Linked DNA regions of Homo sapiens: regions 1, 2 and 4 are each linked to region 3. Evidence: fine-mapped expression QTL. A gene starts in region 3. Each other region holds a variant in brackets. All regions are shown on one strand. Distances are from middle to middle. Region 1 overlaps BIN3 (bridging integrator 3). Region 2 overlaps BIN3 (bridging integrator 3). Region 3 holds the start of C8orf58 (chromosome 8 open reading frame 58). Region 4 overlaps BIN3 (bridging integrator 3).

The links. PIP is the estimated chance that this variant, and not a neighbour inherited with it, causes the effect. A credible set is the group of variants that fine-mapping cannot tell apart.
Region 1: its variant is the best candidate, but not a certain one, in a credible set for the expression of C8orf58 in blood mononuclear cells (TOPMed, PIP 0.81).
Region 2: its variant is the best candidate, but not a certain one, in a credible set for the expression of C8orf58 in whole blood (INTERVAL, PIP 0.56).
Region 4: its variant is the best candidate, but not a certain one, in a credible set for the expression of C8orf58 in whole blood (TOPMed, PIP 0.53).

The regions. Positions count from the first base shown.
Region 1 is chr8:22,659,733-22,667,264 of GRCh38, reverse strand. All of the region lies in intron 1 of BIN3 (bridging integrator 3), which reads left to right. Among named protein-coding and RNA genes, the nearest start is that of BIN3, 5.6 kb to the left of the region's middle. The variant A/G (reference allele first, on the strand shown) is at 4,096.
Region 2 is chr8:22,648,571-22,656,102 of GRCh38, reverse strand. All of the region lies in intron 1 of BIN3 (bridging integrator 3), which reads left to right. Among named protein-coding and RNA genes, the nearest start is that of BIN3-IT1, 10 kb to the right of the region's middle. The variant A/C (reference allele first, on the strand shown) is at 5,013.
Region 3 is chr8:22,595,833-22,603,364 of GRCh38, reverse strand. C8orf58 (chromosome 8 open reading frame 58) reads right to left here and starts at 3,766. Exons shown (of 7, transcript NM_001013842.3): 1 at 3,605-3,766; 2 at 2,008-2,483; 3 at 1,513-1,653; 4 at 1,285-1,393; 5 at 1,053-1,165; 6 at 722-828; 7 at 1-170. The coding sequence starts at 3,644. The coding sequence ends at 59. LOC107986876 (a long non-coding RNA gene) reads left to right here. Exons shown (of 1, transcript NR_160769.1): 1 at 1-232. It also overlaps a transcript of PDLIM2 not described here. RefSeq lists enhancers at 1,202-2,079, 4,768-5,515, 5,516-6,263 and silencers at 3,367-3,826, 3,857-3,956, 4,322-4,381.
Region 4 is chr8:22,640,198-22,647,729 of GRCh38, reverse strand. BIN3 (bridging integrator 3) reads left to right here. Exons shown (of 9, transcript NM_018688.6): 2 at 2,927-2,975. BIN3-IT1 (BIN3 intronic transcript 1) reads left to right here and starts at 5,521. Exons shown (of 1, transcript NR_027715.1): 1 at 5,521-7,359. The variant C/A (reference allele first, on the strand shown) is at 1,739.

The DNA of each region.
Region 1 (7,532 bases), 64 kb before region 3:
TTGGAGAGAATTGAGATTGACAACTGTCTAACAAGAGCTGAGATTTTCATCTAGTAGCTTTAATTTACCAGTACATGCACATCTTGGTATCTCCTTGGACTGAGAGTCACAGCCAGAAGGGTGGCTTTGTCCCTCAAAGCTGAGATTCCTTTCTCTTCCCCCTTAAAGGGCTTCTACGTCATCTCTTGCGTGGACCCTGACCCTGTCTCTCAAAGACGGGAACAGCACCGGCGCCTGGGCACACAATCACACTCAGTTCCTAGCTCAATGGCTGGCAAGGAGACCGGGGCTGGGTCCTTCTGATTCACTCCCTGAGTGGTTTTCCTGCCCCCAGAATGAATCCATCCATTCATGTGAGACTGGAATTCTCATTAGGGGAAGAGACCAGAGTGACGTAGAGCCATCATGGGAGGCTGATGCCCAAGGTCAAGTTCACCAAGTACATGGGCTGTGCCAAGCCATCATTAAATAAGGCACATGGCCCATGGTCCCCAGAGGGTAACCATTGTTCTGGGCTAGGCTGAGCTTTCAAAATGTCACAGTGAGAAATGTCCAATATTGATGCCCTTTGCACACTGTGGACTTTGCATGAAGAGTGAGAGGCCTTTGTTCTCTGCTTCCTCTGTGCAGGCAACCCGCCCACCCCCTGTTTGTTTAGTGGGTACCTGCTGCCTTCCTGCACCATCTACCCATCCACTCCCCATACACCCATCTGCCTTTCAGAAAAGTGACCCGGTGGTCTGTCCTACTAGGAAGAAGGCATTTGATATTCACATCTCAGATCACAGATTCACTTCTTGGCCTCAAGCCAAATGCTTCTCTCTCTCTCGCTCTCTTTTTCTCTCCCATTGTCCACCCCACCTCCCCCCGCCATTTGCCCCCCTCCCAACTTTCTCTCCTCTCCTCCCCACTCACCCCCTCCCTCCCTATTTCTGTCTCCCTCTTGTCTCCCTTTTCCCCTTCCTGTCTCTCTTCCCCATCTTCCAGTGTATACTCAGGTGGCTTTATTATGGTATGGAGAGAGGATTAAGTAGAATTAAGAATAGTGACCTCAATCTAAGCTGGCTCCAGGAATTGTAGCCTCCTGTTGAACCATACACCTTGATGATTTTAGGCTTAAACGAGGAGGAAAAGGGAGTACTGGAAGAAATCTCCCTATACCTAGGGGTCCAGTAGTTTGACAAAAAGGAAGGAAATTAGAGGCAGAGCAGGTAAGTGTGAGTAGGAGTTAGAGTGCTGCGTTCAGGTTCTGGCTCAGCCACTCACAGTGCGGCCTGGTCAAGCATTGAGCTGTTCTCTGTCTTAGTTTCTCCATCTGTAGCATGGAGTGGCCATTCCTGCTGACAATTTGCCACCTGAGCCTGCTGTGAAATGAGTGGAGTGATATTTTTCTGACTCTTCCGGGGTCTTCTACCTCTGTCTGCCCTTCACACTTTGGTGTTCCTCATGTTTGATCCTTTTTGTTTCTTTCCTGTTTTCACCCTGTAGTCCCTTGCCATCATCTTCAGGATAGAGGCCCAACTCTGGGCCAGGGCTTCTGAGGCCCTCTGGGCCTGGCTGTCCATCTTCACTCCGTGTGTTCCATCCTCCAAGCTTCTCCTGCTCTCTCGTGCCCATGTGCCTCTGGATAACTGTCCCTTCTGCCTGAAATGTTTCCCCTTCACTCACACCCTGTCCACTAGGCCAGCATCTACTCATCCTTCAAGAGTCAGGCCACGCTTCACCTTCTCTGAGGGTCTTCCCTGAGTGGCCCCTCACACCCTGCCATGCTGCACTGGGTGCCGCTCTTCTGACCTTCATCAGCATCTGTACTCCGCTGGCTGGTTTACTTGTCTGTGAGTTCTTGAGTATGGGGACTGTCTTGTGGTCATTGCTATTCCCTAGCACTGTTCCTGGCAGTCAGGAAGTGTTTATTAAATATATGAATGGGGCCTTTTTTCCCTTTTCCTGACTTGCCTCAGCTCAGGAAAAATGTTAAGATAAAAACTTGCAGAACCTACAAACCACTTCCTAAAATGAAGAGCCTCTGAAAGTACTATTGTTAAATTGACCGACACAAGTGGCTTCCAGGTCAGGCTGCCTGTGATTTCTCCTCCCCACTCCTTCTGATCCTCCACTCCAAAGTGCTTTGCTGGGTTTCTTCTGTACTTCCATAGTGCTTCTCCTGTAGCACTTCTGCATCCTTCTGAGTATCACAGACGTACACCTCCCTTCCACACCAACCCCATGAGAACAGGAGCGACATAGAGCTTCTTCATCTTTTTGTACGCATAGTGGGTATCATGCACATAGTGGGTATCTAACAGGTAATTGTTAAATGAATGGAATATAAAGAAGGTAAACTTCTGGGTCAAACAAAACCATTATTCAGTTTTTTTCTCAGTGAAGTCCTTTCCCCTATGATTACCGTTGCTGTCTCACATGTGTAGAGTGCTTCTAACTTTTCAGATGGCTTTCCCGTCCTTTGTCTGACTTCATGCTTATGTCTGCGCAAGCAGTGCAGTCTTATGATCCCCCTTGGTAACTTACTAGAATTCACTCAGCTAGTACCTGGAAGAACTAGAACTAAAATGTGTCTCCTGAGTATTCTGTCCCCATGATCAGGAATATTAGAAGAGTAGCAGACCATTCCCAAGCTGATTGGATCACGGAGTTTCACTTTGCTAAGGTGTGTTGACACTAGCAGGTTGGTAGTGAATCACAGGGAGTTGACAGTCTTCACACATAAGTGATAGAGGAAGTCCTTGTGTCCTGCAGACCTCTAGGTGTTCTGTAACTGGCTCAGCTTCTTCCACCTATGGGGCCCCTGCCTAAGGCAGCCTCATCACTCATGTCCTCTGTGACTTTGGACACACCAAGCTTTTCTTCCTCTGTGGAGAGCATAGTAATGCCTTGAAGACAGGGGCCCTATAAAATGTCTGTGAGATTCTGTATGTGAGCTTGCTCTTATTTCAGGCGTTTAATGAGAGGAGAAGGATTTCTTCCAGATCTTGGAGCAGTCAGAAAGAGTCAAGTGTCTTGAGTCCCACAGCTACTTAGTCAGAGGTGTTATATGTATTATACTCTTTAAGGAAATCTGTCGGAGTAAGCTTTAGAGTCAGCTGTTAAACCTATTAGAATTGTTTTCCCAAACTCATGATTTTGGTGGCTAATCCATCAAATAGGGCCCAGTATAGTGTGATGCACATACATGGTGCTCAACAAATATTTGTTGATTTAATGCTTGTTCAACATTTATAATGTGCAAAAGTCTGTGCTAAATGTTGAGGAACATTTAAAAGACTTGCATGAGTCGATCTCTATCTTCAGCCGGTGTATGGAAAGTGCTAGGGATTCAAAAGGACAGCCGATCACTAAATGTCAGTATGGCATCATCAAGAAAGACTTGAAGCAGATGTAATTTTAACTGAACCTTGACTTAGCAAATACGTGCTGTTTCAGTGGGAGGGAGAGAAGGATCCAGGTAAGAAGCATGGCATGAAAAAGGTGTGTGGAGTCAGAATGCGTCAAGAGTGTTTGTGCGGACTGTCAGGAGGCCAGCTTGGAGGTGGTAAGTAGTGGTTTGGGTAGAGGCTGCATTGGGGAGAATTGGCACTCCACCTCAGGGCCACGTTATATAGTGCTTTCAGTGCCATGCTGAGGACTTGAAATTGAGCCTAGGCTTTTGGAAATTGAAGGCTTTTGAGCAGGGAAGTGGCATGGCCAAAGCAATGATTTAGTCAGATTATTTTGGCAGTGGCCTGCAGGATAACTCAGAAGAGAAAAAATGGAGCCAAGGATGCTAACTTGGACAATAGTTTCCTTTTTTTTTTTTTTTTTTTTTTAAACAAATCGGGGGGTCTCACTGTTGCCCAGGCTGGAGTGCAGTAGTGCAATTACAGCTCACCACAGTCTCAAACTCCTGGGCCCAGGCAATCCTTCTGCCTTAGCCTCCTGAGTGGCTGGGACTATAAGTGTTAGCCACCACACCTGGACTAGTTTCCACAATTTTTTGAACACAACTCACAGTTAGAAATACCTTTGATATCACAACTCACACACACACACACACACACACTTATACTTGAAATAAAAGTTTGACACAGTATGTGTGCA[A/G]TGCACTCTGATATTTTCTATTATGTTCTTGTTCATGGTTTTTCGTTTTTTGAGACAGGCTCTTGCCCTGTTGCCCAGGCTGGAGTGCAGTGGTGCCATCTCAGCTCACTGCAACCTCTACTTCCCGGGTTGAAGCGATTCTCGTGCCTCAGCCTCCCAGATAGCTGGGATTACAGGCATGCACCACCATTTTTTAGTAGAGACTGAGTTTCGCTATGTTAGCCAGGCTGGTTTCTAACCTCTGGATTCAAGTAATCCACCCGTCTTGGCCTCCCAAAGTGCTGGGATTACAAGCATGAGCCACCGCGGCCAGCCTTGTTTGTTTTTTTAAAGAATGACCCACCTCAGTTGACTTTTTTTTTCTTTTTTTCTTCCTGAGGTGAGTGCATATGATTTTTTAATTTCATGACTGATTTTGATCTATGTATATAATGGAAGACTGTGTAGCAGTTTAAATGACCTTTGAGTGATAGATGTTCTGCAAAGACCTCAAGTTTGAAAACCATCTGTCTAAGAGTATCATTACAAATACTCAGACGATAAGCTAACACCTTTGACTCCAGCAACTGAAGATAGGGTTACTTGTGTATTTGGTTGTTTCACTGGGTTAATAAAAAATAACAGAAGGGGCAGCTGTAAAGAACACTGGCTGAGTTCTTTATAAGAACTTATTCCATAGATTTGAAAACTGTCAATTGCTTTCCAGAAAAGAAAACCCAAGTGAACAAAAGCTCATGTAAAGATGTTTGGTCCTATTAGTAATCAGGAAAAACAGATTAAACCAACAATGAGATGCTGTTTCACAGCCATCAGACTGGCAGAAATTTTAAAGCCTGACAATGCCAAGTATCTGAGGGTGAGGAATAGTAGGAATTCACATACACTGCAGGAGGGGGTGTATATTGGAGATTTTGGAGTTGGAACAGTGGCTGTCCCCTACCCTAGAGAAACTCCCATACCTCCATGCAGCAGGGGACACATGCCAGGAGTGTGAGGGGCATCGTCATGTGCAGATGCCCAGCCTCTGGAGAATGGGGAAATAAATTGTGATGTCTTTACATGATGATATGTTATGGGCCGGGCGTGTTGGCTCACGCCTGTAATCCCAGCGCTTTGGGAGGCAGAGGCGGGCAGATCAGTTGAGGTCAGGAGTTCAAGACCAGCCTCACCAACATGGTGAAACCCCGTCTCTACTAAAAAATACAAAAATTAGCCGGGCATGGTGGTGGTGCATACCTGTAATCCCCGCTACTCAAGAGGCTGAGGCAGGAGAATCGTTTGAACCTGGGAGGTGGAGATTGCAGTGAGCTGAGATCATGCCACTGCACTCCAGCCTGGGCAACAAAGTGAGACTGTCTCAAAAAAAATGTATATATATGTAGTAGTTAAAATGGGTAAAATAGAGCTGTATGTACCAGTGTGGGCAAATCTCAAGAATGTAATGCTGAATGTAAAAAGCTAGCTTCAGAATGATACATTCAAATAAATAAGAGTGATACACTCAACATTGTAGGCTGGGCACGGTGGCTGACACCTGTAATCCCAACACTCTGGGAGGTCAAGGCAAGCAGATCACTTGAGGTCAGGAGTTCAAGACCAGCCTGGCCAACATGGTGAAACCCCATCTCTACTAAAAATACAAAGATTAGCCAGGCGTGGTGGTGCACGCCTGTAATCCAAGCTACTAGGGAGGCTGAGGCAGGAGAATCACTTCAGCCCAGGAGGCGGAGGTTGCAGTGAGCCAAGATCATGCCACTGCATTCCAGCCTGGGTGATAGAGCGAGACTCCATCTCAAAAAAAAAAAAAAAAAAAAAAAGAATGATACATTCAACATTGTACTATTTATGTAAACATTAGACCTATAAGGCAATACTATATTTTGCATATGGACTTAAACTTATACAGTAAAAGTATGGGAATAGTACTAAATTTAGAATAGTGGTTACTCTAGGATAACAAGGAGAGAAGGAAATGGAATCTCAGGGGCCAGTCGAGGTGGCTCATGCCTATAATCCCAGCACTTTGGGAGGCCAAGGCGGGAGGATCGCTTGAGTCCAGGAGATGGAGACTAACCTGGGGAGCGTAGTGAGACTGTCTCTACAAAAAGAAAATTAAAAATTAGCCAGGGGTAGTGGTGCAAGCCTGTAGTCCCAGCACTCAGCAGGCTGAGGCAGGTGGACTGCTGGAGCCCAGGAATTCAAGGTTGCGGCGAGCTATGATCACACCACTGCACCTCAGCCTGGATACAGAGGGAAACCCTGTCTCAAAAAAACTAAGTTAAAAAAGAAAAGAAAGAAATACAATCTCAGGGTGCGATACTCAGGGAGCCTGAACAGCATCTGTACTGTTTTGTTGCTTAAATAATAATATCTAAAGCAAGCATGGCTTCGTTAGAATTTGACAAAGCCAAGTGGTGGATACATGAGTATTTATTATATATTCCCTGTATTTTTTGTGTATTTACAATATTTCATATTTTTTTAATTTTTAAACCATTGCTGGGGCAGACCTCACTTTCCATAGCAAGAGAACGTTTGCCCGCGCCCCCCGCCCCTGCCCCACGGGATGGGGACGATGTAGGGAGGGGGCCTAGAAGTCAGTTTCCATCCAGCCATCTTCCTTCTACCTCTTGCTTTCTAGGGGCCAAACTTTCAGCAGAGAAGAGGAAAAAGGTAGTGTGAGAGCTCTTTATAATTGCTGATTGGTAAGAGACAGGAGCAAAGGTGAGATTAAAGATGGTACCTCAGAAGCTAAACAGCCGGTCTGGTGCTCTCAGAGTCTAAGCCACTGTCAGCCCATCGGAATGGAGATGAGGCCAGTAGAGGTGCTCTCCTTGCGGAGTCCGCAGGACAAGCCTTTCACCTCCAAATGCAAACCCATTTTCTACCCCTTCTTACCTTACAGACTAGAATGAGAATCGGTGATTACTTGTCTGTCAGATATTAGGATCTTCTTAAGGGGCTGCAAAGAAAATCCAAACTTGCCTCCTTGAGTTGCCTGCCTTCCTCTCTTAGGTGCTCTGTCGGCCTCCACACTTTTGTCAAAATCCTTTCACTATTTGGGGGGAAGTTGCCACTCAAATTTAGGCAGACTTATCACTTGGGCCTGGTGGTGGTGCATCACGGTATGGGACAGCTGTTTGCCCCCAAAACAAAAAAATAATTTCAGGTTTCCTAACCATTCTTGGGGGGTGAGTATACTTAATCTCTGTAACTTCTTACAAGTCACCCCTTCTGGACCTGGTTGGTCGTCGTCATCAAAATACCACTACTACCTTCGCAAAAAAACAGACTGCTTACTGTGTGTCAAGATCTGTTTTAAGCATTAAACTCGTTTAACCTTCATAGCGACCCTAGAAGATGAGTAAATTATTTTCCATCCTATTTTATAGATAAAGAGACGGAGACACAGGAAGGTGAGGTCACTTGCCCAGAGT
Region 2 (7,532 bases), 53 kb before region 3:
ATCCTTATCAGGGGTTTTTAGGTGTGGGGGTGAGAGCACACAGCTAGTGAAATTTATCTTGAATAATTAAAACAGCCAAGAAATTACCTGGAAAAAAATTTTTAATGAGAAGGGATTTGCTTTGCTAAGTATCAGGAACTTTTATACATCTAAATAAATCTGTGTTATTGGCAAAAGGGTAGATTACTCTGTGGTATGGAATAGTAGATGCATTTAATGCTGATAAAATAACTTTTCAAAGGTGGAATTTTTAAAAACTATGTTAAAACAATGGACTAGTCATACACTCAAACTCTAAATGCAGCAAAGATTTAAATATAAAAAATAAACCACTAAAATTCACGTGGAAATGCAAGGGACACACAATAGTCAAAATGATCTTGACAAAGAACAAAGCTGGAGAACTCACACTCCCCAGTCTTAATACTACAAAGCTACAGTAATGAAGGTTGTGTGGTGCTGTTATCAAGATGGACATGTAGATGAATGGAATAGAATTGAAATAAACCCTTACATATATGGACAATTGATTTGTAACAAAGATGCCAGAACAGTTCAGCGGAAAAAGAATAATCTTCAACAAACAGTGCTGGGACAAATGGATAGCCACTTGCCAAGGAATGAAGTTGGACCCCTACCTCACACCATATTTAAAAATTAACTCAAAATGGATCAATGACCTAAATGTAAGAGCTAAACTATAAAACTCTTAGAAGAAAAGACAAGAGTAAATCTTCATGACCTTGGATTTGTCAAAGGATTCTTACATATGACACCAAAAGCATGAACAACAAAAGAAAAAACAGATAAATTGGACTTCATCAAAATTTAAAACTTTCTGCTTCAAAGGACACCATTAAGAAAGTGGAAACCCAGCCCATGGATGAGAGAAAATATTTCTGATTATGGGCTAATACCCAGAATATATAAAGAACTCTTACAACTCAACAACAATAATAATAAAAGTTTTAGAATGAGCAAAGGATTTGAATAGATGTTTCTCCAAAGATATACAAATGAACACATGAAAAGACGCTTAACGTCATTAGTCATTAGAGAAATGCACATCAGAAATACTACCTCATACCCACTAGGATGGCTAAAATGAAAAAGACAGTGTTGGCAAGGATGTGGAGAAATTGGAACCCTTATATACCACTGGTGGGAATGTAAAATGATACAATTACTTTGGAAAACAGTCTGGCACATCCTCAAAAGGTTAAACATAGAGTGACCATATGACCCAGCAGTTTTGCTCCTAGATATATGCCCAAGAGAAGTAACATATCCACACAAAATCTTGAACATAAATGTTTGTCACAGCATTCATTAATACCCAAAAAGGGAAAACAACCCAATTGTCCATCAAATGATAAGTGGATAAACAAAATATAAATCCATACACTGAACTAGTATTCAGTGATTAAAAAAATAAAAGGATGAAGTACTGATATATGCTATGACATGGATGACCTTCAAAAACATTTTGCTAAGTGAAGGAGGCTGACACAAAAGGCCACATACAAATATAATTCTACTTCTGTGCAATGTCCAGAAAAGGCAAATCCATAAAGAAGGCAAAGTAATGGTTGCCAGGGCTGGAGGAGGGGAGTTGTTTGCTAATAGGTGTGGGGTTTCTTTTTGGTGTGATGAAAATGTTCTGAAATTAGATAGCAGTGATTTTTGCACAATTCTGGGAATATACTAAAAACCCCAAATTGTACACTTTAAAAGGGTGAATGTTATGGTATGTTATTTAAAAATAAACCAGATTCTGAGTAAAGATGACAGATTGAATACATACATCTAATTTATCTCCCTCACAAATCCTACAAAAAGCACAGTAAAGCAGTTTTTTAAGGCATAAATCCATAGTTCAGGGAGAATAGAAGAGACATCAACAACAAAATTTGGGAATTAGGGTGCAGTTACATGAGGTAACTGACTTAGTTCCAAGAAAGTCAAGTCCCAAACTGGCGTTTGAGAAAACCAAGAGCCATCCCACCTTACATCCCAGAATTCTCAAAGGTTTGGGAGTTGGTACTAAGTACCTCTAGAAGTTAGGTGAAGCCAAGGGCTGAGATCAGGGTGATTGGTTGAAAACTATGAATAGTTTAGAGCCCTAACATCTCCCTAACTGCTTATCACTGGGAGACTGTCCCCACCCCACCCCACCCTAGCAGAAGAATGAAGAGTCCTACACCCCAACCCCCACCTCCAAAGAATTCTGTACCAGGGGACACAAAGGTGGATTTAAGGTGTGAAACTTACAAAGCTTCAGCCTCAGGGTCCCAACTTAAATGGACCTTTCCCAAGACCCTGGAAGGAACCCTAGGCATGCCTATGTTGTGGTAAACTGAAACATAAAGTGTTTACATTGCAGCGAGTTAGGAAAACCTCTGTCTTCATTCCTGCTTTTACTTCTTCATACTATCCCTCATGTCAGGCAATCCTGGGGTAGCCCAGGCTTTTTTGGGGGATGGAACTAAGGAAGGGTGAATTGGGAGTATACTGTTTTAACTGTACGTTGTAAAGACATCTTTGGAAAATGTTAGTAAAACAAGAAATCACAGGCTCCTGAGTTGGAAATGTGTAACGGTTACCTTTTGTGGTCAATTTTAAATTTACTTAAAAACTAGAGAGAAAATTGGATTTAAAAATAATGGAACACAAAAATGATAAGGTGAGTGCTTAAATATGTAGAAATCATTCTGAAATATAGCAAAGCATAACAAAACATTTTCCAATTGTACCAAAAGTGAGTAATCCATTAAGAGAACGAGATCCATTTTAAATAGGAGTGATGATTGTTAGAAAACTCAGTTAATGAAGAAGAGGAGCAAATCAGCGGAACACACTGATAAAACATTTAAATTTCTGGCGGATTTAACATGAAAAACATAACAAAGATAACAAAATTCAAAATACGCCCTCCTTCAAAGACAGACATTAATGACAAACTGGTCACTGTCATTAATTCAAAGAACACTTAAGATTAGTCACTGTACAAGAAACCTTGAAATGTGCCCTGACATCTTAGTTTATTTGCAGAGGAAACATGAGATTTTTCTAAATTTTACAACAATCCTAAAATTTGGATATTACCAGTAAGCTGAAAAAGGCTCTTCTAAACCATCAGTAGTAGAAAAATTTCGAACAACCATACCAGAGGAAAGAGGGAATTACCTTTTTTACTCTAAGAAAATGATGCTACCAACTCTGCATCACATGAAGAGGCAACCAAACACTAAGCAGCCCAAAAATGTAGGGAGACAAAGATAGAGGTGTGTTAGGCAGATGATTCATAAAAATACTAGATTATTTCCTGATGTTTGTGTCATTTATTAGCTTTTAAAACTTCGCATTTGTTTTGCTCTTTTCTCTGCCTAAATATTCACTTTCATGCCTATTTGTATATTTGTAATTTTCTTGAAATGGGGCATACAAAATTGTATAAACTTCAAACCCGCCTCTGAGAGGGCAGCCAGCACAGCTGAGGGTGGGACTGCCCTAGTGAAGTCGGGAGGATGAAGTGAACGCACACCCTCAGAGTGCCAAGGCACACCCCTTCCCCTCCCCACCACACATGCGCACATGCACACATGTGTACACATACATGCACACGCAGGCTCTTCCATTGCCGAGTTCCCAGAATGGCAGAAGGTTGGAAGAATCTTCTCTAAGGAATTTTACCTGCCCAAGAGAAAAGAGTAGAAAGATAGTGACATCAGGGAGTTCCCCACAAAACTGTTCAGCCAGTTTGCAGATTGTCCTACCCAGTAGATAAACATGGTTCGTGTGCTCAGAGCTTCTTGTCAGCTCTTTTTGTCTCCCAGTCATAGATGAGAGTAGGCAACCAAGAATTACCACACATCCAAGGAAAGCACTTAGTATGGAAAATAAAGACTAAACAAAAAGAAAAAAAGCAACTTGGAGGAAAACTGAAACTATAAAGGGAAGAAGAAACTTTTTAATTAAAGCTGTTGTTAAGATCCTCAGAGAGATAAGGCATCCATGAAATAAAAATAAGATACCATTTTAAAAGGACATCCTGAAAATTTAAAAGAGCTCTTAGAAATTAAAAATCTGATAGCAGAAATGAAAAAAAAAAAAAACTTGGTAGAAGCGTTAGAAGATGAAATTGAGAAACAGAAATTAGAGGACCAGCCAAGGAGGGTCAGCATCGAAATTGTAAGTTTCAGAAGTAAGAAACAGAAAACAAGAAATCAACAACAAAATTTTTAAAATCTCAGAACCGAAGATTATAAATTGCCAAATTGAAACAGTCCTGTGAGTACCCACCACAGTGGATGAAAATAGACCCACATTGTTGTAAAATTATACAACACCGTGACAAACATATATTCCTATAAGATTGTGTAAGAAAATAAAAAACAGGTTATATACAAAGGATGGGAATCAGAGTGGCTTCAGACTTTCCCACAGCAGCAGTACTGGGAAGTTAGAAGACAGGGGAGCAATGCCTTTGAAATTCTGGCAGAAATTATGTCCAGCCTTTAATTCTATGCCCAAATTAGCCTGCAGGTAGAAGAACAAGGTTTTAGGATGTGCAGTCTCAAAAGTGACCTCCCACATACTTTGTTCCCACCAAAATAAGGGGTAAATGAAGAAAGAGGAGGATCAGGGAAAAATCATGAAAGAGAAGTCAAAGGAATCCCAGAAAGATTGGTGAAGGGACAGCTGGTGCTGAGAGCCTCACGGCTGGGGAGCAGGCAGCCAGTCCAGGTTGGAGCGAGGCAGCAGTTGCAGGGCAGACTGTCCGGAAGATGCAAAGGAGAGAACACCTGATAACGATGAATGTGTTGAAACCAGAGTTAGACCACAGATTGAATTGGGGATAAGTACGTAGACAAGCAAATGAAAGAAAAGTGACAATTACCAATTTTAGGGAAAGTTAAAAAAAAAGTATGCATGTTATTTATGTATTACTGCTGCGTGACACATTATCCCACAACTTAGTGGCTGGAAACAAATAGTTTCTGTTGGTCAGG[A/C]ATTTGGGAGTGGCATAGCTGGAGCTTTGACTTGGAAACTCTTACGAGTTTGTGACTCAGTACATCGGCTACAACTGCTATGCCCTAAAGCTTTGACTGAGGCTGAACAATCTGCTGGCTCCCAAGGGCAGGATGGAAGAAAACTCACAATATCCTCCTAATAGTTTACTTAATATTGAGCTAACCAAGTTATTATACTGTAACTATATTGAGAAGAAGAGCTGCAAGTGTGGCTTCATGAAATAGCGATGGGTACCCAAAAATATTTTGTTTGTTTAATTTTAAATCTTCATCTTCCGAAGTAAAAAGTCAATAGCTAAAGTAGATTTTTAGTGCCTAAAAACCTAACGATCTAGAGGTAGCAGTATAAGCATTTATCTTTAGATGTGCAAAGGTAAATACTAGAAACTCAGTTGAGTTGAAAGTGGTTGTTTCTGGCAAATGAGATTAGGGAGTCCTGGGAACTAACGTTTTACTTAAGAAATCTTGTTGCCTTATTAGACTGTGCACACTATAACTTTGATACTAATGATAGAATTTAGATTAACAAAAGGAAGCCATAAAAGTAATAAAGTAAATATAGGTAAATAGTTGCAAGTTGATGGAGTGGAGGAAGCAGGTCATCCTCAGTTTGATACCAAAAGAAGAACTCACAAAAGGCGGATTTAGTAGATTTGATTTCACACTAATCAAAAGCTTCTGTACATTAAACACAAGCATGTACAAAAGTGAAAGGCAAACACTAATCCAAGAAAAAAATCCTGATATACAAACCAAAGTGTGGTTAGTAAAATGTAAACTGTTTCAATCTTTTCAAAAATGTTAAATGTTTCAATCTGTCTCTAGGGCAGTTTGTCAAAATGTGTCAAAGCCTTGAACACAGTATACAGAATTGATCCTGTATGACTCTTAGTGCACACCAAGATTTACCTATTGGAGTTTTTGTTCATAATAGAAGAAAAATTTGAAACGGTTGCAATGACCAGCAGTAAGTGATGAGGTTACAGAAATAAAACGAGTGGTACATTTCCATTATATACCTGAACCACTCATTTTACTTCCGTAGCTCTTAAAAATCAGGAGAGTGAAAATGATATATTCTCATATAAAACCATTCATGATATTTCTTTTACTTATTAATTTAAAAATTATATAAAATTTACATATGCACATGCACACACACATGTACACACTGTGATTCAGGATATTACTGTTAATTTTTTCCTTTGGGGGTGTGTGTGTGTGTGTGTGTGTGTGTGTGTGTGTGTGTGTGTGTGTTGTCCTTTGCGTTTTTCTATCTCTTCCAGGTTTTTAACACTGATCAGGTGCTATTTTTGTAGTCAAGAAAAAAACAAGGGTGTTTTTTTGTTTGTTTGTTTTTGTTTTTGTTTTTGGTTTATTTGAAAGAAAAATGTGGAAAGTGCAAAGAAGAAAACAGTAATCATATTCTCACCACCCAGAATTAGCCACTACCAACATTTGGCATATTTGCTTCAGTTTTTCTTACTGTAAATTTAAAAAATATAAATAGCAACACTGAAACATTAACCTTGGCCATCTTTTAGATGCGGAATCGTGGCTGGGTTTTTCCCTCTCCTTTTCCTCCCTTATACCCCCACCCACCCCATCCCCTTTTATTTCTCAAGTGTTCTGCAATGAGCACGTTTTTCTGTAATAGTTGTTTTAAAGTTACTGTTTCTCGTGTGAATACTTTACTTTTTAAGGAGATAAACTGTAATTAACTGTAAAGGGTAGAATTTTTTAAATGCCAAATAAGTCTTTGACGTTTAGAAGAAGGTGAGAAGTTTTCCTGGGAGCAGAGAAAGCATTCCATATAGGTGGGGTAGCCATTTGTCCTGGTTGCCCTGGGCAGTCCAAGTTGTCCTGATGACGTGTACTCCAAAATGTCCCAGTTTGGGACAGGAAATTATAAGGAGTCTAGATTTGGGGGATTAATGAACAGCCACTTGGCTGAATCATGGCAGTTGTACTGAGTGAATAGGAAAAGTAAGGTTGAGAACATATTACAGAAGCACATTGAATACTAATGTAAGTTCCTCCACTGATTCTAGGGCTGAGGCAGGAAATGTACAAGATGCACTTGGTACATGTCGTAGAGCTGGAAAGTAAGGAAATACACACACACACTTACATACATACATACATACATACATACATACATACATACATACATACGTTGATGTGGATATGTCAAAGGGACACAGAAGCCAACTGAAAGAGCTGCCAGTGGTGAAAGCTGGAACAGTTTGAGCATCAAAATAATGTATTAGATTATAACCCAAAATATAAGATAAATATCTGTGAGTCCATACTGATATTGAATGGTTGAATAAATAAGAAATAGGATTCTGCATGATGGCTTCCTCCCAAGGAGTGCAGTAGGGAAAGGGAGAAGGGAGAGTAACTTCACAGTAGGAAGCTGAGAAAGATGACCTCAGCCTGGTGATCAAGGTTCACATCAGCAGGGTAAGGCATGTTGACATCGTGGACCCTGGGTAT
Region 3 (7,532 bases):
GAGGAAGACTTCACAGCAAGTCCCCTCCACCCAGGGTCACCAGGTGCACCGAGAGGTCTCAGCCTACAGAAAGGTTTTTTGCTCGTTGCTTCTTAACCACTAATGATGGCATAAAGGTCTTCCGGTGGGGGCGGCACTGAGGCCTTTCAGGGAGGTCCCTGGACTCGATCCTGTGGAATGAAAAGAAGACATTAGGCTAGAAGGGGGAAATAAAACTAACAATGGCCCTAGAGTTGAGAGAACGTGGTTTATCTGCTGGTGGGTAGCTGGGTGTGGGCGCAGCCCGGGGCTGTTAAATGACTTGGTATTTCTTCCTCCTGGAGAACGATTCAATACAAGCCCCGAAGCATGATGGCCTTCACCCACTGTGAAATCCTTTGTGCTCCACCTTGCTCTCCCCACGAACCTGGAAGGTGGCCTAAATGTCAGCATTGAGGGTGAGGGGTTGCTGAGCTAGGGTAGGCAGATTTCCCACATTCTGGTCCTAGCTGTCACTGACTCACCGTGCGGCTTTGGAAAAGCAACTACCCCCAACCCCACCCAGAACCCTGCCTCCTTATCTGTAAATGGGGTGTTTTAACTACTGTTTCTTCTAGCAGCCCCTCCCAGACTGCCTCTCAAGTTTTGCGGGGACAATAATGACAACTGGCATGACAATCTCAGCATCCTGGCTTATCAGTCTCCTCTCCGTGCCCTAACCTGGGCTGGGCACGGGGCTCACCTGGGGTCAGAGCCATCAGGAGGGGCAGGGGGCTCAGGGTGGTGGTGGCTTCTCCGGCAGATCCGGTTGAGCAGGACCTTGACCTTGTCCCAGTGGGAGATATCCCGCTGAGCAGAGGATGAGGGGTCACCCAGAGCCCTCCCCACACTCAGACCCCCGACCAAGCTCCCAGAGACAGCTGTCGCCACAGCCAGGACAAGTCGCCTGCTCCAAACAGGAATCAATCCTGTCATTTCCCCAGAGTTGCTGGCCCCCAGGGTGCCCATGCATCCCCCACCTCCCCTCCCCCCACCCCAGCCCACCACCTGCCCCACATATACCTGTCCCCTACCTTGTGTCCCTGGGAGGATGGCAAGTGGTACGTTGGCTCCACTGGGGTTTCTGGCAGCCTGGGAGGGTTGGCACTGGGCACCTCCACCTTTGGGGGTGAAGCAGCCTTTGCTCCTTCAGAAAGACAGTCAGGTTGGCCAGGGCCAGAAGACACCCCATCAAGCTTCGGCTCAGAGGACCTGCTGGTGGGACCCCAGGCAGGCAGGACAAAGGGAGACACGATGGCCCCTCACCTGTGTGCTCTGTCTGGCTTAGCAGCTCCCATGGCCCCTGCCCCCGATTGCCTGGGGTGTGTAACGGGGACGGTAAAGGGGCTCGGGTCGACTCCTCCTCGCCGGGATCCTATGCACAGGAGAGACAGGTGATCAGGGCCTGGCTAGAGGGCTGAAGCTGCTCTGAGGGCAGCCATGGTTCCCAGGGTCCCATCTGTCCTCTCCCTCCCCCACTCGAATCTCACTCACCCCTGGGGGCCTCTGGATCCGCAGCTGCAGGTAGAGCTGCTGGAGCCTTGCCATCTGCTCCAGCACCAGGCACAGGTGTTCCAGATAGCGAAGACCCTGCCCGGGGAGGCAGGCCCAGGCTCCAGGCCCCAGGCCCCCCACCTGTGGGACATTGTGAGATAGGGGAGATTTCAGCCAGTAGGGCTCCTGCCCTACCCTAAGCAGCCAGGCTGGGCTCAGCCAGCAGATGGGAGCAGAGTGGGCCCCGAGGAGGAACACACGCAGCCGGCTTCCCCACTGCCCAGCGGGGCATAGTGCCAGGAAGGGCCCCCGTAGCTGCCCACCTCCTCTGCAGAGGTGGCCGTGCACAAATGGAACTGGGGTGCAGAAAGAACCTATGACACAACCCATCAATTAGGGGCAGGGAGTGCCCCACCCAGAGAGAGCTCCAGGGAGAACCAGAGGAGCTAGGCTGTCCATCCCACTCTTAAACCCAGCCTGAGAGTGAGCACTCACCGCCTCTTCTTCCAGGCCTGCCTCTAGGTCTGTGTCTGCCTCCATGGACTCCTGTTGCCCTGCTCCAAGGGGCACTTCACGCTCAGGCTTGCTTGCCAGCCGCAGGGAGCGGTGTTGTCCTGACAAGCTGGTGGGAGCTGTTGGGAGCCGGCGGGACCGCTCCAACACCTCCCCCAGCTTCTGGCTGGCCAGGAGTCGGCCTACCTGGGCGGGGGGCTCAGAACTCCCTGAGGATTCAAAGTCCAGGGAGTCCTGAGAAAGGCCCGGTAAGGCGGCCAGGGGGCTGTCCCCAACTGCCATCTCCACTCCTGAGTCCCGGGAGGCCAGTTTGAGAAAGAGTGCCTCCCTGCCGACACCTCTGAACTTGTCACCTCTCTCCCAGGATGAGCACCCGTGGGCAGCGTCGGGGATCCGTCTGTAGGTGCTGGTGACTCCAGGCACTATGCAGCCCCGTGCCAGGCCCTCGCCAGCCCCATCTGCATGGAGAGTCAGCGTCAGGCTGGGCAGGCCACCCCCAACACCCCCAGCATTCCTGAAGGCTGGCAGCACTGCCCCAGGGAGAAGTGTCCCGGAGCAGTGAGGAAGGGCGGTCACTGGACAGCCACGGGCAGCCCGGATATGGCCCCAGCTGTCTGGGAGATGTGTGGATGGGATTCCCTTCGCAACGGTTGTTAGCGACAGGGAACCCGTGCTCTGAGCTGTGTGGTAGGCAAAGCCCTGGCAGGCCACATCCATCAATCCCTTAGACGGCCTGCGCCTGCGCTTCCCACCTAGGATCAGCCCACGATCTCCCGAGTCAGAAGTAGGGAGCCACAGGCTCTTCCGCTGCTCCCCAAGCGGGAGTAGGACTGTATCCAGCTTCAGGGAGAGGGGAGAGGGTACAGAGAGGAAAGCCTGGGATCCAACCTGCTCTCTGGGGGCCCCTGCGGCATCAGGATGCCAGGTGAAGTCTCTCCTGCAGCTCACCGGGAGAGTGATAAAAATCACCGCTATAACCGATTTGGGCTTTTGTTGTAAGTGAGCAATAGTGAAGATTTTATGAAAAGTTTAAAATGAAAGAACTGAAGTGAAAGAAAGGGACGAAGGGGCAGCATTAGCACCCCCTCACTGTCACCTCCGCCAGGCCCTCTGGCGACGGGGCGTCCTGGCGGAATGAACGGTACGGGAAACAGGCTAGGGGGGCGGGGACGAGCTGCGGGGCACGCGGGAGCCGAATGCCAACCCAGGCCCCTCTGGGCAAGGAAGTGGGCCAGGAGGTCACTGGGTGGGAGAGGGGTCCGCAGCCACGGAGGGGGCTGGGGCGCGGGCGGATTCCCACATCCTCAGAAGGAGCGGGAAGGCGAGGGAAGCGGAGCCGGAGGAAGTGGGGCGGAGGCGGTGGCTGGTTTAACGCCTGGGCCCAAAGGGGTTCCAGCCTGCATGGCGTCCCCTGATGACCGCCCCTCCAGGGAGGCGGCGAGGGAGGCGCAGCGGCGCGGGCTCCGCCCGCGGGGTGCGCGGGGCTGGGCAAGAAACTGAGAGAGGGTGCCCGGCTTGGGGGCGGGAAGCGGCTCCGGGGCAGGGGGGAGCCCGGCCAGCCTGGGGGTGGGTGACTCACCCCGGCCGTCCACGGCGAAGGCGCGCCGCCGGCCCATCATGGCCCGCTCCCGGCCCCGGCCCCGGCCAATGCAGCCGCCCGAGGATCCCGGCCCGAGTCCCCGCGGAGCTCGGGCAGCTCAGGGAGCGCGTCCCGACCCAGCTGGGCGCGGCCCCCAGACACTCCCAGCGGGGCTGGGGGGGCGGGGAGCGGGGCTGGGGGGGCGGGGGGCGGGGCGGTGGGGGGCGTGGCCTAGGGGGAGGAGAGAGGAAGAGCGAGACGAGGAAGGGAGGGGCGAGGAGAGAGGGGAGGGGCGAGACGAGGGAGGGGAGGGGCGAGGCAAGGTAGGGGAGCGGCGAGAGGAGGGGAGGGGCGAGGGGAAGGGGGAGGGGCGAGGAGAAGGGGGCGAGGAGAAAGGGGCGGGGCAAGACGAGGGATGAGAGGAACGAGGCGAGGGAGGGGAAAGGAGAGGGAGGGGAGGGGCGAGGAGAGGGAGGGGAGGGGCGAGGAAGAGGAGGGCGAGGGGAGGGGAGAGGAGAGGGTGGGGAGGGGAGAGGGAGGGGAGAGGGGAGGGGCGAGGAGAGGGTGGGCAGAGGAGAGGGAGGGGAGAGGGGAGAGGGGAGGAAAGGAGAGGGGAGAGGGGAGGAGAGGAGAGGGGAGAGGGAAAGGGGAGAGGAGAGGGAGGGGAGGGGAGAGGAGAGGGAGGGGAGGGGAGAGGAGAGGGGAGGGGCGAGAGGAGGGAGGGGAGGGGCGAGAGGAGGGAAGGCAAGGGTGCCAGGTGGGGGGCGCAGGTGGCCGGGTCGCCAAGAACGAGGTCGAAGGCACGGACTGGGTGGCGCCCCCAACTGTGGCTGTGGCCAAAATAAGGGTCCCGATCAGCTGTTCTGCGAGGACCCGGCCCCCGCCTGGGGACGCCGTCTGGCTCGGGGCGCCGGTCCGCCCGGCCCCGCGGGTTCACACGCAGCGTCCGTCTTCCTGCCGCGGACTTAGAGCCGGGGCTGGCTGGAGGACCGGACAAGAGCCAGGAAGGAAATGGGAGCCCCACGTGCTGGCGGTGGGAAGAGCGCTGACCAGGACGCGGGCACCCGGCGCTCCCTAGCAGTGTGGCTTGGGGGCCAGTCTCTTGGCCGCTCGGAAACCTGGGCGATGGGAGGGGAAACGATCCTGCCCACCGGGAAATCTTTTACAACTGCAGAACGCGCGTGTGTCCTCAGCTAGATCTGAACCCCCTCCCGGTCCCCTGCCTCTTTCTCATCCCGGGCTCCCTAAAGCTGGGGACTGGGTAGGTCTCAAGGTCTGGAAAGATGCGAGCCAGCGGGGAGCCGCCTGGAGACTGGGCCAAAGTGTAAATGTCCCCCTGTTCCCACCTCACCCTGCCTTTGGCCCGTGGGATTCCACCCCTCAGTCCCCAACCTAAAAGGAGCCCAAGAAGCTACTGAAGATGAGAGAGAGCCTGGTGACCAGACTGGGGCTGGTGTCCTCTAAAGAAGGCACCTCCTCCAGAGGGAGGGGGCAGGGCTGGAAAAATCCCAGCAGGACCCAAATCCCCCGGAGGCAGATAAGGGAGCTGGAGGACGTGCAGACTAGCACCTGGACCTCTAGGGGAGGGGAGAGGCTGGAGCCAGAGCCACTGGAAGGAAGTGGCTGTTTACCGGGAGGGGTAAGACAGTCTGTGCATCCCCTTCCCTTTGCTCCTTTCTGGAACCAGTCCCCAAACACCCACTGCAGGAGCCTTTATCAGAGAGCCACAAACTATCAGATTTTAAAACTTTATAAAATGGGGAAACTGAGGCCCACAGCCAATCTCTGCGCAGGCCAGCCGAATGACAGCCAAGTGCCAGAATTGCTGGCCATGTCTCAACAGAGTCACATTCAAGCCCAGGCCCTTCCCTGCTAGCCATGGGTCCTCTGGGTTGCCCCCACCCTGCCCAGTCCTCCTAGACAGTACCCATTCCGCTTCTCACAGGCAGAGAGAGAACCAGAGTGCTGGGTCTCCAGGAACTGCCTTATGCAAGACCAAGAAGATGTGTGGAATCACACCCCGGCCGTGCCAGAGCCCTGCCAGCCCTCCCTGGGTAGGAGGGAGCCCAGACTCCCTCCAAAGTAAGAGGGTGGGGGAGGGAGCCTTTGCCAGATCGCGCCCTGAATTTGGAGAATGTGGGGCGGGATTCCAAACAGTCTCTGTGGTGACTCTGGGACAGGAATGCATCTGGAAACAGGAAGCCCAGCCAGCAGGAATGCAGTGTCTCAGCACAATGCTTTGTGTGTGACTCAAAAGAACCTCCACACACACACCCCAACACACACTCCCCTCCAGGCCATGGCGCACCCCTCCTCCCCACCACCGCCATGCAGATGCGTCCTGGCCCAGGACCAGCTCAGAGGAACCTGAGCCCTGGCGGGCACGGGGGCAGGATCTGACCCAACACCCAAAGTAGGGGGATGCCCCCTTCCTGTGGCAGCCGCAGTCCCAAGCCTAGAGCCAGGCCAGGGCTCTCTGAGTGATGCTTGAAGGAATGGGAGGGGCAGCCCGTCCATGCACTCCTGACAAGGTAAACCACTGCCATGAGTTCCTGAGACAGACAGTGTCCTGAGCAGGGTCAGCCCTCAGGCTGCCCAGTGGCCCCTGCACTTCCCATGGGGAAGTCCTGGCTTCAGGAAGTGGGTTTCCTGCAAGCTCAGCTGGAGCTAGTACCCGTGGGAGGAAGCACAAAGCTGAGAGCCTACAGAGCGCTGGGGAGGGCTGTGGTGACCTCCAGTTGTGACCAGAGGTGACCAGAGCTGTGCCTGGAAGGCTGCCTCTGATGACAGAGGGACAAACTCTGCCCCCCACAAGCCAGAAACCTGGGAGGCAGGCTGTAGATCCATTCCTTACTAGCTAGGAGTACTTGGACCATTTACTGAACCTCCTGGTCCTCGGTTTCCTCGTCTGCAGAGAGGATGGTAACAGTACCTATCTCGGGTTGTGAGGATTAAGTGAGTTAAAGCATTGGAAGTATCCCTAGCACATCAAAAGCACCCCCAGAGCTTAGCCATTATGACTGTCTAGCTGTGCAGCTTTGGAAAAGTCACTTTCCCTTCTCTAACCAAAGGGGGTTGTACCAGATGCTCCTTTGGGCCACTTCTAACTCTAATCTGTCACTTCAGTTAATCTCCTCAGTGCAGGAAGGGAAGAGGGCACTGCACTGGACAAAGTCCGGGAACATAGACGGGCGGCGTGCGGCAGAGGGAGTGGGAGCACGCAGCTAGCTGGCTTAGGTTGGGGACAAGATCAGAGGTAAAAGACCAAAAACTGCCTGTCCCCAGCCTCCTCTGCTGACCAACTCATAACTCCGTTCTTCCAGGGGAGTTTGCTCCCGAGCCGGGCTGATTGTGTGGCTGCAGAGAACCCTGGTGCTGAAACCCTCAGGACCCCTGGGAGGAGAGATGGCTGCCACACCAAAGAACAAGAGCCAGAGGGGGATTTGAGCTGGAACCTACAAAGCCCTCAGAAGGCATTCGATGCCTCACTGGAATGCCCATCATTTCACATGTCCCCAGTCCCCACTTATCCCCCTCCACTCCTATGACACTGCTGGCCCAGCATGGCGTGCTACATACAGGTGGGAATCTGTCCATATCAATAATCCAAACCATCTTTTCCAACCTGTCACTTCTCTGCTTAAAACCTTCCAAGTGTTCCCAGAGGCTGGGCAAGGTTAGCTCACGCTTGTAATCCCAACACTTTGGAAAGCCAAGGTGGGAGGATGGCTTGGGGCCCGAAGTTCGAGACCAGCCTGGGCAACATAGTGAGACCCCATCTCTTAAAAAAAAAAAAAAACTTAAAAATTAGCTGGGTGTGGTGGTGCACGCCTGTAGTCCCAGCTACCTGGGAGGCTGTGGGAGGATCTCTTGAGCCTGGGAGGTGGAGGCTGCAGTGAGCTAAGATTGTACCACTGCACTCCAGCCT
Region 4 (7,532 bases), 44 kb before region 3:
TCATCAGTAACTGTGGTGAAAATACAAGGAAAGAGCTGTTCCGTCTGCGTGGTGTACATAACCTCTTATTGTGCCAGAGCACCCAGTTCAGCACGAACGTCCTCCCATTCACTTCCAGACCCTTAAGAACAATGAGCCCCTTGGAATTCTGTAGGACTTTGAGACTAGGTGTTTTCATCACATACTTATAACAAATTCATGTGAAAAGAGTATTGAACTGTGGGTAGCAGAGAGAAAACTGGGCTGGACACCAGGGGTGCTGGTTGCTTCTTCCTTGTTCTCTTGTGAGCCAGCAGAGTGACCCTGGGCTTGTCACTGAACCTTTCTGGATCTGCTTCCTCATCTACAAAAGGAGAGGGTTGAACTGGGGAAAAAATTTCTATGGTAACTTACAGTTCTAAAAATACCGTGATACTAAATTAAGGTTTAGAGGGAGGCTGTCACACCACAAATAATGGAATCTACGTTTCTGATTCTTGGTCCCTTGTCTACAGTACTAAACTCCAAGAATCGTTTTGAAGACCACTCTGAGACTTCTTTAGAATTCTCATCCTACTCCCCATATTCTTGGAGTGGAGATTCAGTTTAGAATTCCAGTTTTAGATAAGCTGAAGGGATTCCAACTCCTTTGTTTTATAGTTTAAGAAACTGGGCTCCAGAGAGATTGAGATTTGTTCAAATCACAAAATGAGTCGGAGGCAGAGGCCACGTTTTCTGATACCGGGTCGAGAGCGCTTTCAGCTGCAGCATGCTTCCCACAGAATACAGGCTGTCTGTCTGCAATGCCACTGGGACCTCATTTGCAATGTCTCCAGAGTGGTCCTTGCCACCAGGACCTCATTTGCACTGTCTCCAGAATGGTCCTTGAGGGCAATTGCTCACTGTCCAAAAACCATCCTGTCTGTCAGCTGTAATCCCTGAGAATGGGAAAAGTAACCAGGGTGTGGGGAAGGAACCCATCTCCCCGTGAACCTTTTCTGTTTAGGTCTGAGAAAGGAAGCAACAATTTCATTTTTTCTTTCCTTTTCATTTCCAGACCTTACCTTTCCTCCCTGGTTATTATGTAGTCAGAATTTATTTGTTTACAGAAGATGCGAATCAGCCAGCCCCCAAAGGGTTAACACTCCCAAATTATGGGGCTGGGTTAACAATAAACAGGATGTCCTCCAGAAATTAAATTTAAACCACTGTGACTCAGGCTGGCCCATCCCCTCCACTGGATCACTGTTTGGGGTCATTATCGGTGGTTAATTACACCCTTGGGTTTAGCAACAGTGTGTTGGTCAGTTTGGGCCAAAGGAAAGCAGGCTCAGGGAGAAGGGGGTGTGGAGGGAAGGGTGGGATGTGGGCCTGGTGGAGCGGGTCTGGTGCATTGTGGAAACGGGAGGTTTGAATGGAAGAGCCAAAAGGAGAGGGATGAGCATGGCTGGCTGAGAGCCCTCTGCCGGAGCTGATCGCAGGGATTCTTGACTCACTTCCTACCTGGGATCGGGAGTCTACCCTTTCCATAGCCATTGGGATGCACTTTCTAGCCTGGCCTCTTTTCTTCCTGGAGTTGGAGAATCATAGAATGCTCAGTGCCTCAAGGAAGCTCCTAAATTACCTAGTTTAATCTACTCGTTTTATGCAGCAGGAAATGGAGTCCCAGTGCAGCCGTCACCTGCCGAAGGGCAGCCTGCTCAGTGGAAGCGGAGGCCAGGCTAATGCTCAGGTTGAGACTCCTAGACCCATGATCCTC[C/A]TTCCGCTGTGCCATGCTGTAAAGTAGGGAATCTGAGGTGCAGCTCTTCATAGCAAGTCCAAGGCAGACTTGGGCTGGATTTCAGATTATTTTCCAAGTTAGCAGCTTTTTGATTTTGTGAGTTTTCCCAGGGAAATAATCCAGCCCGGCCAATCACTAATGCCTCTGTTATTTATTAACTCTCCCCAGCCTCCAAAGAAGATTTGCAGATCCAAAGTTTGCCCCTCTATAGAGAAGTAGCAAAGCACCTAATATAGACCATAATGATTCGTGATTTCAAGGATGATAGCTATTACAGTGAGTCTGTAATTTCTGAGTTTGCACCTCCTCAAGACACAAGGTTTTATTGTCATTCACAGGGTGTCTTCCCTTTCCTGCCATCCTCGCGGGTGTCTTCCCTTTCCTGCCATCCTCGCCTTTCCTCTCTTCCCCTTTCCTTTCCTTTCCTTTCCTTTCCTCCCCCTCCCCTTCCCCTTTCTTCCCTTCTGTTCCCTTCCTTTATCTCTTTAAAAGACAGGGTCTCCCTCTGTTGCCCAGGCTAGGGTGCAGTGGTATGATCATAATTCACTGCAGCCTCAAACTCCTGGGCTTAAGTGATCCTCCTGCTTCAGCCTCTCAAGTGACTGGGACTACAGGCATGTGCCACCACGCCCGGCTAATTTTTGGTGGTTGTTTTTTTGTGTTTTTTTTTTTGAGATAGGATCTTGCTATATTGCCCAGTCTAGTCTTGAACTCCTGGCTCAAGCAGTCCTCCACCTGGGCCTCCCAAAGTGCTGGGATTGCAGGTATGAGCTGCCATACCCAGCGGATTTTTTTTTTTTTTTTTGGAGATAGGGTCTTGCTCTGTCGCTTAGGCTAGAGAACAGTGGTGCAATTATAGGTCACTACAGCCTCAAACTCCTTGGCCTCACCTTTTCATTTTCTTTAAATGACAGACTATCAGTAGCAAAGATGTTCTGGGGCAGAGCAACCTGCATCTGACACTGTAGGTGGGAGGACCTATCTCTCTCTTAGAACCAAGCCCAGATGCCAATGGTTGTATGCCCACCAGGGCACATGGTCCAAGTAGCAAGCCATGGCCACGCTTCCTCGCCCTCCTGGGGGAAAGTGGCCTGTACTGTACTGATACTTTGAGCTGCATCCTTCCCCACTTCTCACAATATCTCTCTTTGTCTCTTTCTCTTATAGGATTCCTTTTAAGATTGGGCAGCCCAAGAAACAGATTGTGCCCAAAACAGTGAGTAACTCGATTGTTTTGCTGTGAGATTCAGTTCTGTATCACATGGCCTTTGCATAAGAATCAAAGCTTTGAATCAACACATCTTGGGGCTGGGAAGACAGCAACCTGGGCCTTCTTCCTGCTTATGCGGATCTAGAACCTCACATAGACTGAGGCTTAGAGGGGCCTCCTGTCCTGGGACACTTCCCCTAGGAAAGGTTAGCCTGGGCTCTTTATCATCCTTGGGCAGGGGGAATGGGTGGATTACAAAAATGTAGAGGAAGATATTGCTTTAGAACGGTCCACCTCTAGGGACTGGCTTGTGGTCTATACTTTTCCTAAGAGTGTTCCTGAAAGAGTGGCCCCCACCAAAGACACTGCCCAGGCATTTATTTCTGTTACCTCAGCTGCAGAAAACTCCAGGAAGCTTTTCCCAGTGGCCTCGGCCTGTTTGTGTCAACTTCCAAATGCATTCTTGGCCATGACCCAGAGTCACTCAGCAGGAAAGGAAGATTGAATCCCACCCCCCTTTAAGCCCACAGTTTTTATCCCTAGAAAGTTTTTATCTCCAGAATGGGAAAGGAAGAGAATCATAGATTCTTAGGAAGTTAGAGCTGGAAGCTCATAGAGACCATCTAGTCCAACCTCCTGATTTTTCCTGATGAAGAAAATGAGGCCCGTGGAAAGTTGCAATGACTTCCTCAAGTTATAAAAACCCCACACTGGCAAAGCTGGAGTTAGAACTCAGGCGTGAGCCCCTGGCTGATACTCTTTCCATTGCCTCATGCTTCCCTGGGCAGTGAAGCCCTCCCAGTGTTTTGGAATCCCGGTGCAAAATAGCCTTTTCAACCTCCTGACCCACAAATCTGAGTGGGTCTCTTGGTTTTAACATGGGAGACCACAACTGTAGAGCCTCTCTGATGTGACAGCTACAGGAAGTCCGGTGCTGTGCTGGCGGCAGAGGCCCTCGTCTGTCATCCCAGCCCCTGACGGTTCTCCTTGTCTTACTAGCTTCTCCCCTCCTTGGCAGAGCTCTCAAAAGTACAGGAAAGAGATTGCTTCAGTGTGGTGAGAAGTTTGGCACACATCTGACCAATGGCTCCATCTCTAGCAAATCCAGAGTAAGGTCACTTGAGAGGAAACAGGCCCAAGTTAAAAGCACCCTCACAGGGTCCAGTGGCTTACGCCTGTAATCCAACACTTTGGAAGGCCAACGTGGGGGCATCATTTCAAGCAAGAAGTTTGAGACCAGCCTGGGCAACAAAGAGAGACCCCGACTCTACCAAAAAATATGCACGCCTGTAGTCCCAGCTACTTGGGAGGCTAAAGCAGGAGGACTGCTTGAGCGCACGAGTTCGAGGCCACAGTGAGCTCTGATTGCACCACTGCACTCCACCCTAGGTGATAGACTGAGACCCTGTCTGTTAAAAAAAAAAGTTGGGGGGTGGGGCCTCTCTGCTTCATGCAGAGGCAGGGTGCTGACCAACTCAGCGCTGACCTCTCATGCAGAGGCTGACCATCTGTGGAGGCTCTCAGCTGAAGTCCAAAGAATCTGGGTGTGCATATGTTGGTCTCTAGCCGGCTGCAGGAAGTGGGAAGGTGTGGCTTTGAGTCTCCAGAGTTTAATCCATGACAGATCTGAAAGGGAAGTGGTTTCAAGAGGGTTCTTTTATTCTGAATGCTCACTACAAACAAAAACCCTCCCAGCACCCCAACCTTTATCAAAATGAACTTTGTTCTCCACAGAAAGTGTAGACAAACCAGCTGCTTTGCCAGTGTGTTGGTGGCAAGATCTCTGGCTCCGTTGATCTAAGGAGTGGCAAGGACTCGCAGTGCGGGCAGATGCACACAGGGCATCCCTCTTCCCTTCCTCGCATCTGTCTCGCTGGAGATGGAATTGTGGTCCTCTGATTATGGCATCTGCTCTCTGATAGACTGGGGGTCAGGTAGGGGTTAAGAAACTAGGTTTGGGAGGCTGGCAGCCTGGGTCCCCATCCTGGCCCTGCCACATGCTGTCTCTGACCTTGGGCAAGTTCCTTAACCTCTGGAGCCTTCATTTTCTCGTTTATAAAATCAGGATGATGACAGTACCTGTGTCACAGATGTTACTTTGAGGCTCACACAAGATAATACACTGAAGGCACCTAACACAGTGTCTGGCACAAAATAAGTCCCCAGTTAACTACATCACAGGAAGCTGGTTGATTTGACCTTCTTTATGAACCATCAGGGACTCAGCCTGTCCCAGGCAGCTAGATTTCCCAACGCAACAAAAGTCGGCTGGGCCTTTGATCTCTCACAAGGAATCACAGCTGAGCTACAGCTCGGAGTAGTTATTTGCTTCCCTGGCCTATACCCCTCCACTCCCCAGAGGCACTGAAGTAGAAGTAGTAAGACCCTGCCTCTTCAGTCTCATTCCCCACCCACCACCCCCTCCCGGCCCCCAAAACAGGCCTGGGCTGTGCAGTTGTCTCAGCATCTCTGGCAGCTGCCCTTGAACAGCAGTGACGCACTCTGTTGTTCTTGCCCAGGCACTTTCAGGGAGGGGAGCAGCTGTGGCTGCCTGGGTTATTGGAAGTCATGGAGCCCCTGTCATGGGAAGAAATGCTCACGTTATCTTCAGGGAGTTTCAGGAGGTTTTTGGCTCAAGGCACCCAACTGTCAGGCACAAAGAAAGCATTGTGTCCCTACCCTCACTGCTCTCCTGTGCCCAGGTTATTAACACAAATTCCATTATTGTCAAGGCTTTGGCTAGAATGGCTTGTTCCTGCTGGGGCTGACCATTAGAACTGAGATGGAGGAACAAAAGCTCCCCCGATCCCGATCCTAACCTTCCACCCAGTCCCCTCCCACTCCCCAGGTCCCATAAAGTGGCGGGAGCATCGTAGCGTAGGAAGAAGCCGCCACACCTTCCTCCATAACCTGGGAGGATGGAAGAGCTCTTCGAAGCTTTGCTCTTCGTGTCCCCCTGAAACAAGGGTTACTGTGAGTCTTGCACACAAGGAACATGCGCTCCAAGGTTCCTAGCCAGGTGGGTGCTCTGCAAAGTTAGGGCAAAGAGAGTCTGGCCACATGCAGCCTCTCCACTGGAGAAGGATTTTCATCTGCCAGGTGGCGGGGCCCTTAGCCTCGTTAATCCTGCTTAATCCTGCTAGAACATACCTACAGGGAGCCCACTTTCCACGCAGAGCATCCCTTGAAGGAGGGGCTTCCCAGAATGCTGAGGATTCTGGGCTTCTCAGACTCCGATCAGATGCACCTCAGCCCTGGGATCAGTGCCCCAGCCCTGCCTGCCAGTTTCCTTTTTCACTTCACCATGAGCATAAGTTTGGGTGGGAACTCAGCCTGTTCATTCACTTCATACTGAGTTCCCACTCTGTGCCAGGGCCTGACCTGTGCACTGCCAAAAGAGCAGGGAACAGCAAAACCCTTTCCTCCCACCGTGGGCCTTGGAGAATGAATGCAGGGGGTGGCCACGGGTAGTCGTCTGGGGCTTGGTTCTCCCTGAGCTAACCTCGCCAGCCTGGCCCAGCTTGCCCTGATCCCCTGATGGTCCGTGCACATGTGTTTATACTTGCATTGTTGACTGGGGTCCAATTGCCTTTTTGGCAAAGGCATCAAGCATTCAAAGATGTTCAGATCTTTTCTGTCTGGCTCTTTTCCTCGGAATGAGGCTCCAGTGTGTCCCTTTAGTCCCTTAGCCATTATCTGAGAGGCTAGAATTCTGGCAGTGTCCCCGTGCATCTTTCCCCAGTGGAGGAGAGAACTCTCGGACCAGTGAGCTAGAGAAGCAACCCACCCCGGCCGCTGGAAGCAGGGGAGGTGAAATGTGTCCAAACTCCTCTCAGGCTGTCAGATGGCCTTGAGCGGCACCAAGTAGAAAACGCGCTCCCACCCCTGACCTTCTCCTCAGCTTCATTGTGAGACCTCAAGTTCCTCAGCTTCCAGGATGATCAACCTAGCTGAAAACCTGAAGTCCCTCCCGGTACAAGTCCAAGCAGTCCCCAGCCAGGGAGACCAGGTGTTGTCTGACATCCCACACACATCGGCACACTTGGGGGATTGCAAAAGGGAGGAAGGGAGCCAAAGGCTAGGGCCCCGGGGTTCAGCTAACACTCAGCACCCCTCCCAAAGAGCGCCCCCTGTGTGTTCTGGATCTCTAGAGGGGTTTGGTTTGGGCCAAGTAGTGCTTAGTTTTAATTTTCTCTTTCTGGAAATAAATACTTTTAATAAGTAAAGATGCTGCTCAGCTGTCATATCCTGCAAGGTTAGAGGAAAGATGTGGGCCGTGCGCGGTGGCTCATGCCTGTAATCCCAGCACTTTGGGAGGCCAAGGCAGGCAGATCACTTGAGGCCAGGAGTTCAAGACCAGCCCAGGCAACATGGTGACCCCATCTCTACCAAAAAAAAAAAAAAAATTCAAAAATTAGCCGGGTGTGGTGGCTCACTCCTGTAGTCCCAGCTGTACGTGGGAGGCTGAGGCATGAGAATTGCTTGAGCCTGGGAGGCAGAGGTTGCAGTGAGCAGAGATTGTGCCACCGCGCTCCAGTCTGAGCGACAGAGTGAGACTCTGTC